4 linked regions of the Homo sapiens genome follow. The protein of the gene in region 2 interacts with the protein of the main gene of each other region in a pairwise test. Each region holds a gene or a part of one and is shown on either strand. Other genes may lie near its edges.

The links. Proteins that work in one complex are often made in the same cells at the same time.
Region 1: the proteins of CLSTN1 (region 2) and KCTD17 interact in binary tests that used the Homo sapiens proteins (3 or more experiments, as listed by UniProt).
Region 3: the proteins of CLSTN1 (region 2) and TOPBP1 interact in a two-hybrid assay, tested with the Homo sapiens proteins (one large-scale study listed by IntAct).
Region 4: the proteins of CLSTN1 (region 2) and TRIP12 interact in a two-hybrid assay, tested with the Homo sapiens proteins (one study listed by BioGRID and IntAct).

Annotation. Positions count from the first base shown.
Region 1 is NC_000022.11:37,058,242-37,061,741, reverse strand, and holds part of KCTD17 (BTB/POZ domain-containing protein KCTD17), read right to left. Parts: intron 2,430-3,500; coding exon 2,304-2,429; intron 920-2,303; coding exon 820-919; intron 639-819; coding exon 567-638; coding exon of another isoform or gene 204-566; coding exon 113-203; coding exon of another isoform or gene 1-112. UniProt on the Homo sapiens protein: Substrate-adapter for CUL3-RING ubiquitin ligase complexes which mediates the ubiquitination and subsequent proteasomal degradation of TCHP, a protein involved in ciliogenesis down-regulation.
Region 2 is NC_000001.11:9,750,966-9,754,465, forward strand, and holds part of CLSTN1 (calsyntenin-1 isoform 1 precursor), read right to left. Parts: intron 717-3,500; coding exon 508-716; intron 1-507. UniProt on the Homo sapiens protein: Postsynaptic adhesion molecule that binds to presynaptic neurexins to mediate both excitatory and inhibitory synapse formation.
Region 3 is NC_000003.12:133,641,442-133,644,941, forward strand, and holds part of TOPBP1 (DNA topoisomerase 2-binding protein 1), read right to left. Parts: intron 2,923-3,500; coding exon 2,579-2,922; intron 1,932-2,578; coding exon 1,759-1,931; intron 1-1,758. UniProt on the Homo sapiens protein: Scaffold protein that acts as a key protein-protein adapter in DNA replication and DNA repair. Composed of multiple BRCT domains, which specifically recognize and bind phosphorylated proteins, bringing proteins together into functional combinations.
Region 4 is NC_000002.12:229,765,010-229,768,509, forward strand, and holds part of TRIP12 (E3 ubiquitin-protein ligase TRIP12), read right to left. Parts: intron 2,742-3,500; coding exon 2,545-2,741; 3' UTR 1-2,544. UniProt on the Homo sapiens protein: E3 ubiquitin-protein ligase involved in ubiquitin fusion degradation (UFD) pathway and regulation of DNA repair.

The DNA.
Region 1 (3,500 bases), on a different chromosome or scaffold from region 2:
GAAACTTTGGTGGGTGGAGATAATCAGCCGAAAGCTCGGCTCAAGTCCAAGGATCAAGAGATGAGCACCCTCCTCGCTCCACCCCTCCCTCCAGCACCGCCAAGCTACAAACCAGGGATGGCAGCTCTGGGGGCGGGCGAGGGGCCGAGGAGAAGCCCTCACTGCAAGCTCAGCCTCAGGTCTGAGAGGGTGCGGACGGGAACCTGCAAGGAGGAAACGTGAGGAGGAGGCCGGGAGGAGAGGAGGGGGGGCAGGGCCTGCAGCCAGGGCCCAGTCTCAGAGGTGCCCGGCAGGGTTAGTGGGCACAGAGGAGGTGCAGCTGCGCCCCTCCTCCCCAGGCTGGGAGGCAGGAGGTACCAGAAGGGGCGCAGGAGGCGGCAGGCAGGACGCTCTGGGATGCAGGGCCAGGGGGCCTGGGTGGAGGGCACGGGAGGCTGGGACCAGGGCAGACCCGGGATGGAGGCGTGAGCAGGCAGAGAGAAAACCCGGACAGGGGCAGAGAGGGAAGAGGCAGGGTGCAGATGAGATCCAGGAGGAAGAAGAGGTGGATGAAGATGAGGCAGGACCTCCAGCGGGAAGCGGAGGAGGAGGCAGTGGTGGGAGGGAGAAAAGGTTAGCGGGATCCTGAGATGACTGGGCTGCAAAGAGAAAGTGAGAGAAGGGATGGTTATGCGGGTGAGGCGCCAGGCAAGTGGCTGAGCTAACCCTGGTGCCCCCCCAGCAGCCCCGGGGCCCCCGGTTCTGCAGCTGGCTCCAGCAAGGAGTGGGCGGGAGGCTCCGGCTTTGCTTAGCAATCATCCTCCTGGGGGTTGGCTGCACCTTTCTCCTGTGCATCTGCCTCCACCTGCACCTGTTCCACCTCCACCTCCTCCACCTCCTCCTCCTGCTGCTGCTGCTCCTCCAGCTGCTCCTCCGTGCTCTGTGAACCAGCCGGCGGACCCAGGGAAGAAAGAGTGGAGACACTAACAGAGGGGCCAGGGCCTGCTGGCTATCCCCAAAGACCCGGTCTCAGGCAAGGTGAAAGGGACCTCAGGAGAGGGGAGGGCTCCAGCCACAGAAGCTGGGGGCATCTTCTCCGGTCCCCTGGGCAGCTTGGGGAGGGCCTGGGGAAAGCAGCTGAGGATGGGATGCTGTGGGCATGCTCCGGGGTCAGCCTGGCTGCTGTTACATAGAGCGAGGCTGGAGGGAGGGGATGAAGCAGAACAGGGAGGGTGTGGGACTGGGGTATCCCTGAGGGGTGCCTGGGAAGGCCTTGTTTGGAAAGACTGCTCCTCAGTAGAAATGTGGCCAAGGAAGCCCCAGGGCAGACACCACCCAGATCTGGGATGCCAGCCAGTCTCTGACACCCCAGGTCCAGGGGCTTTGGCCCAAAGAGGCAGAAGGAGCAGTCTCGCTCTGCACCCTTGCAGGGCAGCGTCAGCCCTGGCAGTGGTGGGGGTGGGTGGGCAGGCAGGGTGCGTCACAGCAGGACAGGGAGGCAGACAGATAGACAGGAAGCCAGAGGTAAGCCTCCACTGTGTGGGGTTGGGCCCCAGGAGGAGCAGCCTGCCTTCTTCCCAGCCTGGTTCACGCCTGCTCTGTGGCTCTGCGAAGGCCCTTGGGACTTCCCACAGCACTGGGTCCAGGATGGCAGGACCCCCGCTCAGCCCTCTCCCCACAGTGGTACAGTGGATGCTGCCAGGGTGCTCTCAGGAGGCTGCCTCAACAGGCCAGGCGGACACACAGGACTGGCAGCCACCAGGCTGCCCCTATCCTGCAGAGCAGCCAAGGAGGGGGCCTGGGAAAGGGGCAGGATTTACAGCGGTGGCTTCCTCATCCTGGCTCAGGCCAGCTGGGGACATGCACCTGTCCCTGGGGAATAAACGGCCATTTGGGATCCCAGAAGTTCCAGGCTCCAAGGCACTACAAAGAGTATGTGATCCTCCCCTCTCACTTCAGAGAGTGCAGCAAAGGTGCTGGGAGAGGACAAGCCCTGTCCTAAGTCACACAGAGAGTGCCACACTGTGCCCTGACCCCTAGTCCATGCCACAGTGCCCAGTGGCCACTAAGCGGCCCCCTTCATGTAGCCTCTGAGTCCACGCCGGCTGCACCCTGGGGATGCTCTCATTTCACTGCTCCCAGCCTGGGCCTGGGTAACGGCAGGTGGCATGGGATGGATGGCGGTGGCTGTGAGCATGGGGTTGTGCATGGGCGGTGGCGGGAGAGAGGTGGAGGGATGGTGCAGGCGCAGGGGCGGGACAGGCGGGGAGGGTGGAGGGAGACAGGAGACTTCTCCGGACACAGGCTGAGGCGGGTGGGCTCACCTTGGTTTTGCGGCTGGACTCTGAGCTCAGCCCGTTTGGGGTGCTGTGGAGCTCCTTGGACACCACACACAGGAACTCTGCCTGGTCCTCGCTGCCGTAGTTGTAGGAGGAGCCGATGTTCACCAGCTAGAGGGGCGGAGCATGGGGAGAAAAATGCAGGTTGGTGTTGGGGGCCGTGGGGCAGGATACGACAGACCTCGGCACTCAAATCAAGATACCAGCTCAGGTCCTAATCTTGCGGCTTGTCGGGCCCACTCCTGGGTTTGTAGAGGGCACCTCTGGGCAGGAAGGTGGAGTCTTCCCCCTTGCAACCTGTGCCTGTGGTCTGTGCCCCAGGACCAGCCCCTCCGCCTGGCTTGGCTGGCCCGATCCCTGGTGGAGGGTGGCAGCATTACCGCTGTCCCCACCACCACCTCCAGCCTAGCCCCAGAGCCAGGGGGCCCTTTTCTAAATGCAGGCGGAGGCCTCTAAAGGGCGGCTGTCCCCCATTCCAGATGTGGCTGACACAGCCCCAGGACAAGGTTGCAGGGTGGCATTGGCAAGGTGGAGCCCCACAGAATATTCCCTTCACTCCTGGAAGCAGAGGTGGGACGACAGGTGGTCCACTCCTGAGACCAAAGGGCAAATGACCAATGGTCCCTGGCCTGCTTGCTCAGCCTCTGAGAGCCTGTGCAATTGCCAAAGACACCCAGAGGCTCTCAGAGTGGCCCTGCCCTTGTTCCAGGGTCCCTAGAATAACCACGCCCACAGAGCCCTTCTGGCTAAGAAATAAGAAAGTTCTTCCAGGTGATGAGTCTCATTCAGCTCTCAGGGACCCTGAAGAGAATCTCAGGCCTGCTGAAGGCCTCACAGCTAGGAAGGGGTGGAGCAGGGAATGGCATCGGGGATCCCAAGTCCTCTCTGAGTGTTGCAGACTTCAATATGGATTTCTAATGATTTGCATGACACTAATGCCAACATAGGGAGTCCTACGGAGGGCTGTAAGCTTTACTGATGGCCCTTCTAATCTCACAAGAGTCCTACAGAGGAGGTACTGTTAGCCCACTTCACCGATGAGGGAACTGGGTCCCGCACAGGAGATGTAACTTGCCCAAGGTGGCAGGCATGTCTGTGGCAAGGCCTAGAGGTGAAGCCAGGCCTCTGGCTCTGCACTAGGCCCATTCTTCCATCCCTCCAGGCCATCCTGGGGGCTCCGAC
Region 2 (3,500 bases):
AAGGTAGGAGAATCACTTGAACCCGGGAGGCAGAGGTTGCAGTGAGCTGAGATCGCACCACTGTACTCCAGCCTGGGGAACAGAGTGAGAAACTGTCTCAAAAAAAAACCACAAAAACAAAAACAAAAAACTTAATGGAGAACAGAAAATGAGACAAACTAAATGTAAAGGTCAGTCTCATTCAGATGCATGTGGACTGAAAGTTAAGAAGATTAAAAAAACAAAGCCATGTCAGGTAGGAGGATTTTTATTTGATTTTGGTGGGAAAGCAAAAAAGAGGTGAGCCCCACAAGAGAACACAGGACTTACAGGTTCCAGAGAAGAAGTTGTCAGGGAACAAAGTAGAAACTTAAATGTTTTTACAATTAAAAGCAAACACACACCAGGTTAGGTCTCCAACTTGTGAGTTCCATGAAGTTCTGACGAAGCACAGAAGCTGGGGTGTAAAGTCAGTGGGGTTAGCAGGGACTGTCTACCTAGCTGAAAAGCCGGCTCCTCGATTCTTACCATCTTTGTCAACAGTAAAGGGCACGTCTGGAGTGATGATTTCGTAGCTGCAAATCTGGCTGAACTGAGGGGAGCAGTCGGCATCCACGGCCTCCACCCTCAAAATGCTGTCGTACTGCTTCCCCTCGATGACCGTGGCTTTGTAGGACTTCTCCTTGAACACGGGCGCGTACTCATTCACGTCGTTCACCTGAATATGAACAGTTGCTCTGGACAAAGGGAGGGAGAAAAATATTTTTCTGCTTGTTTTCAGTGTGAGAGAGAGACAGAGAGTGTGTATGTGTGTTTACCCAATTCTGCCCTACTTTAAAATTTCCTGTTTCTGATACCTTGTTTCATGAAATTCATATGATGAAGTCAAAAATTAAACAAGCTATTCACTGCTTTTCATTCAAGTGTGGAGATAACAGAAAGTTAAAAGAGGGATTTGGGTCGATTCTTCCATATCCTAAGAATAAAGCAAAAAACCAATCATCTAAAATAAAAGAGACTTGGGTGTTTTTTTTTGACAATATGGGACAAGACAGGCAGAAGGGAGATAAACAATACCAGACGTCTGTTTGCTCTCCAATTATAAAGTTGAAACATATTTTGTAGCAAAATCCAGAAAAAAAATAGAGCCAAGGGAAGAAGGGGTATGAAACAGAGAAAGCATGAAATGGTTTGATTCTGAGAGTTCAAACGAATTCTGTCCTACTTCTAGGGAATAGGCTGGAGTCCATGGCATCACCTGGTCCTGATTCAACAAATGGAAGAGTTCAGGAGAGGCAGGCCGTTGCCACCTGCCAATACCCCAGCTCAGTTATCAAGAAAATTAGGGTGTCATCAGACCTGGCTACAAATAAAAAAAACTGTAGGTTTCAAGGGCTAATGGTCAGGGCATGCTTCTGAATCAGTCAAGGACTTTGGTCAAAATCTGACCTTTTCAAGGGAAACAATAACATTACACTGTGGAAAAAGAGAAGAGACTCACTGGGGCACTGCACCTTCTGCTCACCATGAGCCTCCTCATCCCAGTGCCATCGGTCTGACCCTCACAATGGGTTATGTGACACCATCTCGCCCACATACCCTTCTTTAGTAGATGTGCTAAGTAGAAACTGAGACTCAGGGCCGGGTGTGGTGGCTCACACCTATCCCAGCACTTTGGGAGGCTGAGGCAGGAGGGTCACCAGAGGTCAGAGTTAAAGACCATCCTGGCCAACATGGTGAAACTCCGTCTCTACCAAAAATACAAAAATTAGCCAGGTGTGGTGGAGCGTGCCTGTAATCCCAGCTGCTTGGGAGGCTGAGGCACGAGAATCGCTTGAACCCTGGAGGTGGAGGTTGCAGTGAGCCGAGATTGTGCCACCGCACTCCAGCCTGGGTGACAGAGCGAGACTCTGCCTCAAAAAATAAGTAAATAAATAAATAAATAAAACAAAAGAAAAAGAAACAGACTCAACAAAATTAAATTTGCACAATGCCAAAGGGCTAGCAAGTGGTGGAGAAAAGACTAGAGCTCTAGAAAAGACTAGAGCTTACAATCTAATTGTAGAAGACACTGGACTTGAGAACACCAGCAGTCCCCAGCCTTTTTGGCACCAAGGACTGATTTCATGGAAGGCAATTTCTCCACAGATGGGGGTGGGAGGATGGTTTTGGGATGAAAATGCCCCACCTCAGATCATCAGGCAGTCGATTCTCATAAGGAGCGCACAACCTAGATCCCTGGCATGCTCAGTTCACAACAGGGTTCGCGCTCCTGTGAGAATCTGATACCGCTGCTGATGTGACAGGAGGTGGAGCTCGGGCAGAAATGCTCACTCGCTCACATGCTGTTGACCTCCTGCTGTGTGGCCTGGTTCCTAACAGGCCACGGACCAGTACTGGCCCACGTCCTGAGGTATGGCGACCCCTGTTCTATGTTGTCTTGTCCAAAGCCCTCTCTGCTACAACTGCAGTTCCTAACTGGCAGGAGGTGCAGCAACACACTCAGGATTGTGGCAGCGAGCCAGCCTACTTCCACCAGCAGTGACTAATTTTTTTTTTTTTTTGAGACGGAGTTTCATTCTTTTTGCCCAGGCTGGAGTGCAATGATGTGATCTTGGCTCAGTGCAACCTCCACCTCCCAGGTTCAAGTGATTCTCCTGCCTCAGCCTCCCGAGAAGCAGGGACTACAGGCGCGTGCCACCATGCCTGGTTAATTTTGTATTTTTAGTAGAGACAGGGTTTCTCCATGTTGGCCAGGCTGGTCATGAACTCCTGACCTCAGGTGAAAATCACCTCAGGTGATCTGCCTGCCTCGGCCTCCCAAAGTGCTGGGATTACAGGCGTGAGCCACCGTGCCTGGCCAATTTTTGTTGTTATTGTTTTTTAGGGACAGGGTCTCATTCTGACACTCAGACTGGAGTACAGTGGCACAATCATGGCTCACTGCAGCCTCAACCTCTCGGGCTCAAGCAATCCTCCCGCCTTAGCCTCCCAAGTAGCTGAGACCACAGGCATGTGCCACCATACCTGGCTGTTTATGTTTTGTAGAGATGGCATCTCCTACATTGTCTAGGCTGCTCTCAAACTCCTAGGCTCAAGCAATCTTCCCACCTCAGCCTCCCAAAGTGCTGGGATTATAGGTGTGAGCCACTGCACCTGGCCAACAATGATTAAGTTTATGCCCTTAGGAATTACAGCAAAAGATAAATATGACAACAAAATAACCTTCCTAAGGGAGAAGCAGACTTTTTCAATTTTTAATGTAGGGCCTTTACTTCTTTAATAGAGTATTTGGTGTGATAAAATTATTCACTCATTCATTTATTAAAAACCTAGGCCGGGTGTGGTGGCTCACGCCTGTAATCCTAGCACTTTGGGAGGCCGAGGCAGGTGAATGATGGGGTCAGGAGTTTGATACCAGCCTGGCCAACATGGTGAAACCCGTCTCTACTAAAAATACAAAAATTAGCCAGGCGTGGTGGCAGGCACCTGTAATCCCAGCTACTCGGGAGGCTGAGGCA
Region 3 (3,500 bases), on a different chromosome or scaffold from region 2:
TGCAGCCTTGACCTCCCAGGCTCAAACAATCCTCCCACCTCAGCCTCCCAAATAACTGAGACTACAGATTTATGCTACATTGCCTGGCTCATTTTTAAAATTTTTTGTAAAGACAGGGTCTCAGTATATTGTCCAGGCTGGTGTTGAACTTGGCCTCCTGCCACGGCCTCTCAAAGTGCTAGGATTACAGGCATGAACCACCAGACCTGGCCACAAAATATATTTTAATAACTGTTAGGGCTAGTCCCAATTATTCTATTTCAGAATTTGCATGACTTTCCTGCTGAGTACAGCTTTAGCTGTATCCAGTGGAGTCTGTCATCATGTATGTTATTATCTTCCACAATTTCAGTTTTAAAAGAATTTTATTATTTCATATAATTCAAACAGAAAACAGCAAAAAAAGAAATATACAGCTATACGAATTATTATAAGGTGAAACCCTTAAGTCCACCACCCAGGTCAGAAGACAGAATCTTGCTAACTACCCCAGAACCTCTCCAACATGCCATATAAACCCCCTTCCCTCCCTTCTTAATAGTAGCCACTATTTGGGCTTTTTTTTGGAGACAGGATCTCATTTTGTTGCCCTGGCTGGAGTATAGTTGTGTGATCATAGCTCACTGCAGCCCTGGTCTCCTGGGCTCAAGTAATCCTCCTGCCTTAGCCTCCCGAGTAGCTGGGACCATAGGCACATGCCACCATGCCTGGCTCATTTTTTTTTATTATTTTTTAAATAGAGACGAGGTCTCACTATGTTGTACAGGCTGGTCTTGAACTCCTGAGCTCAAGCAATCTTTTAGCCTCCCGAGTGCTGGGATTACAGGTGTGAGCCACTGTGCTTGGCCTATTTGGATACTTATAGTAATCACTTCTTTACTTTTCTATAATCAAATAATGGCAACTTTAAAGACTACATTTAGGCTTTTGCTTTTTCAAGTCTTTTAGCTTATAGGTTCCTACCTTCTTTTCCATGCCCTTAATATATATTCATTGAAGACACTGGATCATTTATGCCAGAGTTGTACTAAAGTCTGGGTCTTGCTGATTATATCACTGTAGTATAGTTTAACGTGTTATTCTGCTGTTTGCATTTCCTATAAATTGGGAATTGGATCTAGAAGCATCATCAGATTGAGGTTTGATTATTTTGGCAAGACTACTTCAAAGTGGTGGTGTATTCTTTGTAAGAAGGCACATCATGTCTTGTCCCTTTATTGTGTGATCGACTATTGATGTTCAATGCCTAGATTCTTTCATTCATTAGGGGTTACAGTCTTATCATTCCTTATTTATTTATTTGTTTGTTGAAACATCTTTATAAAGGGAAACTTTGTCGTATCCACTATCATGTTACCCTGATGCAAACTGCACAGGAAATGCAAGGTAATTCCTTGATCCTTTCCTTTTGTCAGCTTTCAAAGTAATGGACTGGTTCTCTAGCATCTTTCAAAGATGACCAATTACCTTACTTTATTTGGTGTCATTATGAAGTCACAACTTAAACACTATTTCATGTGTTTGGACCCACTGCAGTTATTACCTCTAATGATACCTAAGTTTTCATCTTTGGACAACAGAGGCACTTTTTTTTTTTAAGGCTAGTCAAGTGAAGCAGTGGGAGTGGAGAAGGAACCACATAACACTCATAAATATAATAAAGACACCCAACCAAATTCTAATTTGAATGCTCTCCAAGAAGTCAAAATAAATAAAAAGATACACCAATACAACAGGTGCATTAAAAATATTACATACCTTGCTCCAAGGAGGTTTGCTAGGAATGTTAAAGACTCTTTTTCTGCTCCAGCACACTGGCTAAATGAAATAACACAATCCTCTAAAGGAGTCATTCCTGTCATTACTGGAACTGGTGTGAAGAGAGGATTCGACTTTGGATCAAACAAAGTCTGATAGTCTATGCAAGTAACCTTTTAAAAACAAAAGAAATAGTAAAGCCAACCTGAAATAAGCAACCAGTGGTTAACACTGGTTCAGGTACAGAAGCAATAATTTAGTTTTGATAAGAAGAAATTTTACTTTAATACAAACTTGTGTATGCTCATTCTCAATACATTTCATATCATAATGTTAGAGTATATATATACATACACACATATACATACATCGACTAATTACATTAGGCTATTAAAATCGGTAAGATCTATTATTAGAGTTACTGAATGTTGCTTTAAATTTCATTCCTTCTAATGTATTAGTTTATACTATTTTTCTCATAATTCTTGGAATGTTAAAAAAAAAAAAATCAACAGTGAAATTACCAGTGATGCTTTGGTTATGAGAAAACAAGACAAATAGTATGAGATGACCCTAGAGTGACCTCCTAAGAAGGAATGTTGCTGCTGTGGCCCTGGGAAACAGTAATCTCTACTGTATCGGGATTAGGCCAAGAAGCTTGCACATTTAATTTTGAATTTCCCTTGCTAAAAGCAAAATCAAGAGTGTTCAAGTCCAAGCATTGATTTACTGTAACTGAACTGTCTAAGAAATAAACATTAACCTTCTTGGCATTCAGATATCCTTCGATACTTTATTTCAACCACTAGTGTTGTCTTACCAGCCATGTATTTGTAACAACTTCTCCCACAGTGGCTTCCACTTCACACCCCAGCAGAGGAACCACAGCATAATCCGCAACAGTTCTGCTCAGAAGGGACATGATTTTCCCAGCATTTTCTTTTATGATGTTTGCGATGTTAGATTCATTTTCATTACTAAAACCCAAAACAAGGAAACTCTTTTGGCTAAATAAGCCTTCTTCAGTAATTGTAGAAACATCAGGGACACAATGACTGACAGAAGACTGGTTTTCTTCTTGCAAAGAAATGTGAGTAGAATCATTCAAGGGCTCAGCATGAGTAGAATCATTAAAGGGCCTGGCTTCAGACGTCTTAGCCTCAACTGAAAGAGAAAAGTAAATGTTTTCTAACCAACAATTTACCTTATACAGTTTACTTCCTAGCAAGGATATTAACGTAACATGGAATCTGATAATTTTGACCATACTTACAAAACTAAAGCTTACGTGTATAATAAAGGGATATGGATTCACCCCGTCTTCGGGGTTACCAAGAGTCCTTATCAGTATTACCATCATCCATTGGGAAGGACAAGAGCAATCATGTTAGTTCTAGGTATTCCTAGTATAATGGAAACTTGAATTAGTTTAAAATTATATAGCTCCAACAGGACTTAGTTCCAAAACTGGTTTAGATGATTCACCATAAAATTAAGAAACTATCATTAAGAAAAAAATTAACAAGTCTAAATGGTATAACTGTCAAGTCCTTAACATGGAACATGTTAACATGGAAATAACTATAAGGAAGTGGCTGGCAAATCCTAAAATATTTATTGTCTACTCCTTTAGAGAAAAAGTTTGCCCTGCTATGTGATTCCAACAAGGCTGGAAGCTATCCAAGAATCACTCTTTCATTTATATAAGCACTGTGACTAAGTGCTTTACAAATGCATGTAAT
Region 4 (3,500 bases), on a different chromosome or scaffold from region 2:
CAATTAGTCTACCTAGAACTTACAGTTCAGTTTTCTGGGGGGATAGGAAGAGGGGATTACATTTAGCTACCTCTTCCTTCTTGGAATAGTTAAAAATACGTTCTCATATATAAAGCAGATCGAATCAGTAACTGTCTAAATGACAACACAAATTCGGTGTTAGCTATGACTAACATCTGACTGACTCCATCTCAGCAAAAAATAAAGGACAACAAAATCTCAGTTGTTACCCAACTAAGTGTTTAAAGTATACTAAGAAGTTAGTGCTCGTTGATAGGATTACCAAGCAAATGAATTTAAGGCATAACTGGAGTAACAGCAAATGAAGTATATACTTTTTCCCTCTGGTGCAATAAGGCCTCTGCCAAGAGAGATTACTTTAAGAGTTTTCCTGCCCCAAATTAACCAAAGGTCCCGTGTATTGAAGGAGGAATAAGCTAAAGGCTGAGGCTTTTAAACAGGTAACGACTGACTTTGAAACACTCAAGACTTTAGAGTTTGAGTCAAAATCATCATATATACTTATTAGATGCTGGAATCAATGAGGCCAAATTTGCCAGGGCTGCAACATGGATAAAATGTCAAGTACAGATGAAACATTATTTTGTTTATACATGTCTAAATTTTAACAGAACCCTTTAAAAATCAGGAACAAAATGCTATGTTCACACAAAAATCCTTGTGCTTAATTTGCAGGAAGATATCAGAACAGTTGAAAACAAATTGTTTCAGTCTTTAACTTCACTTGATGAAGCTGCTCAGCAACTGTGCTGTTAGTGGTGAAAACTGCAGAAACACAATTCCCTTCTTGGATTTCAGGGAAAAGCCATTCACTTGTCAGTCTCTGCAGAGACAGGGAGAGAATTCTCTGCCCCCAACTCCTCTGACAGTTCCCTTCCACTTAATGGGGTCACTGCCCAAGTGAACTCTCAGGAGGGGACATTTCCATATAAGGCCATTTAAGTGTAAATTGACACAGCAATCTATGTCAAACAAGCCACTGAGTTTCTTTTGGGTGGTGGGATAGGGAAAAGGGCTTTTGTGTCAATTAATTAAAACTTACAGAACAGTCAAAAAAATTGATTTCTCAAAGTTCAATTAAAAAAAAAAACTAGCTCATCTCTTATTTTCAAGGAGATGAATTATGGAAAATTCCTTCAAATTTATGCCACAGGCCTAGTTTTGGACCTTAGGAAGGAATCTCCTCCCATTTTCTCTTCACATTTTAGTTTCTTCAAGTTGCTATTATAAATTGTTTGAATAGCAAAATCAGCCATGACCCGAATCATGGAGATATGTGGATTTCCTTGCATTGAAATACATCTATACAATTGAAAGTTATGCATACAGCACAAAACTATAAACAAAAAGGTGAAGCAAACTTTCTTTATTTTCAGGTAAAAACATTAACCTGATGGATTATTGCAGATTTGAGAAATCAGCACATAAAATGACTGGACAGCATTGCTTACAGGTGCTTTTATCTGCGTCGAGACAAAGGCTGAACTGTTTTGTCCCAAGTCAGCACTGGGAGAAGGGGAAGAGGAGCGTGGAATAAAGAAGACTATGAACAAAAACGTAAAACAACAAAGGGAAAAAAATTTTTTTACTCCAACAGGGAAGGAAAACTGCTTATTTTGTTTAAAAAATTTACATTAATTTAAAATCCTCTGGCCACAGAATAATAAATACCGGCCAGCCCAAGCTGTAGACTTCTTAACCTTCATAAAAGAAACAAATGAGCTTTCCTTGTCTCATTCCAGAGGCTGTTGCTGCTGGAATTGCCATGTAAACAGTCCTTAGTGTGTCACCTGGGAAAAAGCCAGTAATACCCTAAACTATATTAAAACTAAACTATAAGAAAAGTCTACCTAGTTACAAAAGCTGAATTATATTCAATAAATTTCAATCCAATGAATTTTAAATTAGATCTTAACTGGAGAGAACATGGGACAACAGAAGCCCATGGGTAACGAAAATTTGAGAACTGTGAGTTGTATACAAAAAAAAAACTGTGAGCTGCACAGATAATAATGAATCAGGGAGAGAAAATCAGAGGAAAGTGAAAAGCACATAGAGCTAGTCTACTAAACTATATTTGTCAAATACATGTGAGCTTAAATTTCTGTACTTATGTACAAGAGTTGTCTTTGGAGGAAAGAAAACTGCAGACTTAGCTAGATGGATACACACAGCCCAGAATTAAACTGCACAGCCACATTTATTGTTCCAGCCTGGAAAAACATCCCTTTTTTAAATTTCACACAGCAAAGCATGTTAAAAACTTCACTCATCAAATAAATGATAATTTAAACAAGAACTTGCTAAAGAAACCTCATCACAACAACGTTTTAGGGCCTGATCACTTTAAGTCCATGGGGCCATTAATGAATATCAACCAAATGTCTCTTTATAATCTGCAAGCCGTTTTTCCTACAACAAGAAGGCGTAACATGTTTCCTTGACTCAGGTGATAACATTAGAAAAGAAATCATGATTTGTTTCTTTTGCTGTAACAGGCAGACACTGCATTTCTTGCTATGATCAGGAAAGATGGAACGACTGCTGCCCTTCTCTTGCTGCTATCAACAGTTTTTCACGCATTATCTCAATGCTTGAATAGTCCGGCAACTTAAGATAGTTCACACAAGTCATTACAGAGGGCAAGAAGTCATCTGGGTTTTCTGTTGATTCAAACGTCTTTCGGACAATTGTCAAAGGTGGATTCAAACTCCGGAATCCTGATTAAGAGAAAAAGAAAGACAAGGAACTTAAGTTTTTAAAAAACATCAGCTATCAGAAAACATTCCACTGCTTTGCCGTACAATATTACACACAAGATATTCTTTCTTGCTTGGCAATTGCACATTCAATATACATTAAGTGCAAGGAACCTGCTTTAATTTATCATTTAAAAACTCGCTGTATAACATGGAGGCAACAGTTCTTTATGTCTTCTGATTTTTAAAATGGAATACCCACAGTGGTTCACGCCCGTAATCCCAGCACTCTGGGAGGCCGAGGTGAGCCAGTCGCTTGAGAGTTTCAGACCAGCCTGGGAAACATGGAGAAACCCTATCTCTACAAAAATACAAAAATTAGCCAGACATGGTGCTGTGTTGTGCCTGTAGTCCCAGCTACACAGGAGGCTGAAGCAGGAGGATCTCGCCTGAGCCCAGGAGGCAGAGGTTGCAGTGAGCCAAGATCACGCCACTGCACTTCAGCCTGGGTGACAAGAGTGAGATCCTGTCTCAAAAAACAAAACAAAAACAACAGAATACCAATTTAACTTACATTAGGATTCAATCTGAAAAACCAGATTTTAGAATCCATTCTCATCTAAGTCAACTAAGAGTTTAGAATGTACAAATGGCCTGGAATTTTATCTAACCAGCATTACATGTGCATTAGTAATCCTACTTCAATATGTTTAAGACAATCCCCATGGATTTCCCTGCTAGTGGTCTCAATGTACTATAATGATACTGGAATAACTAAGA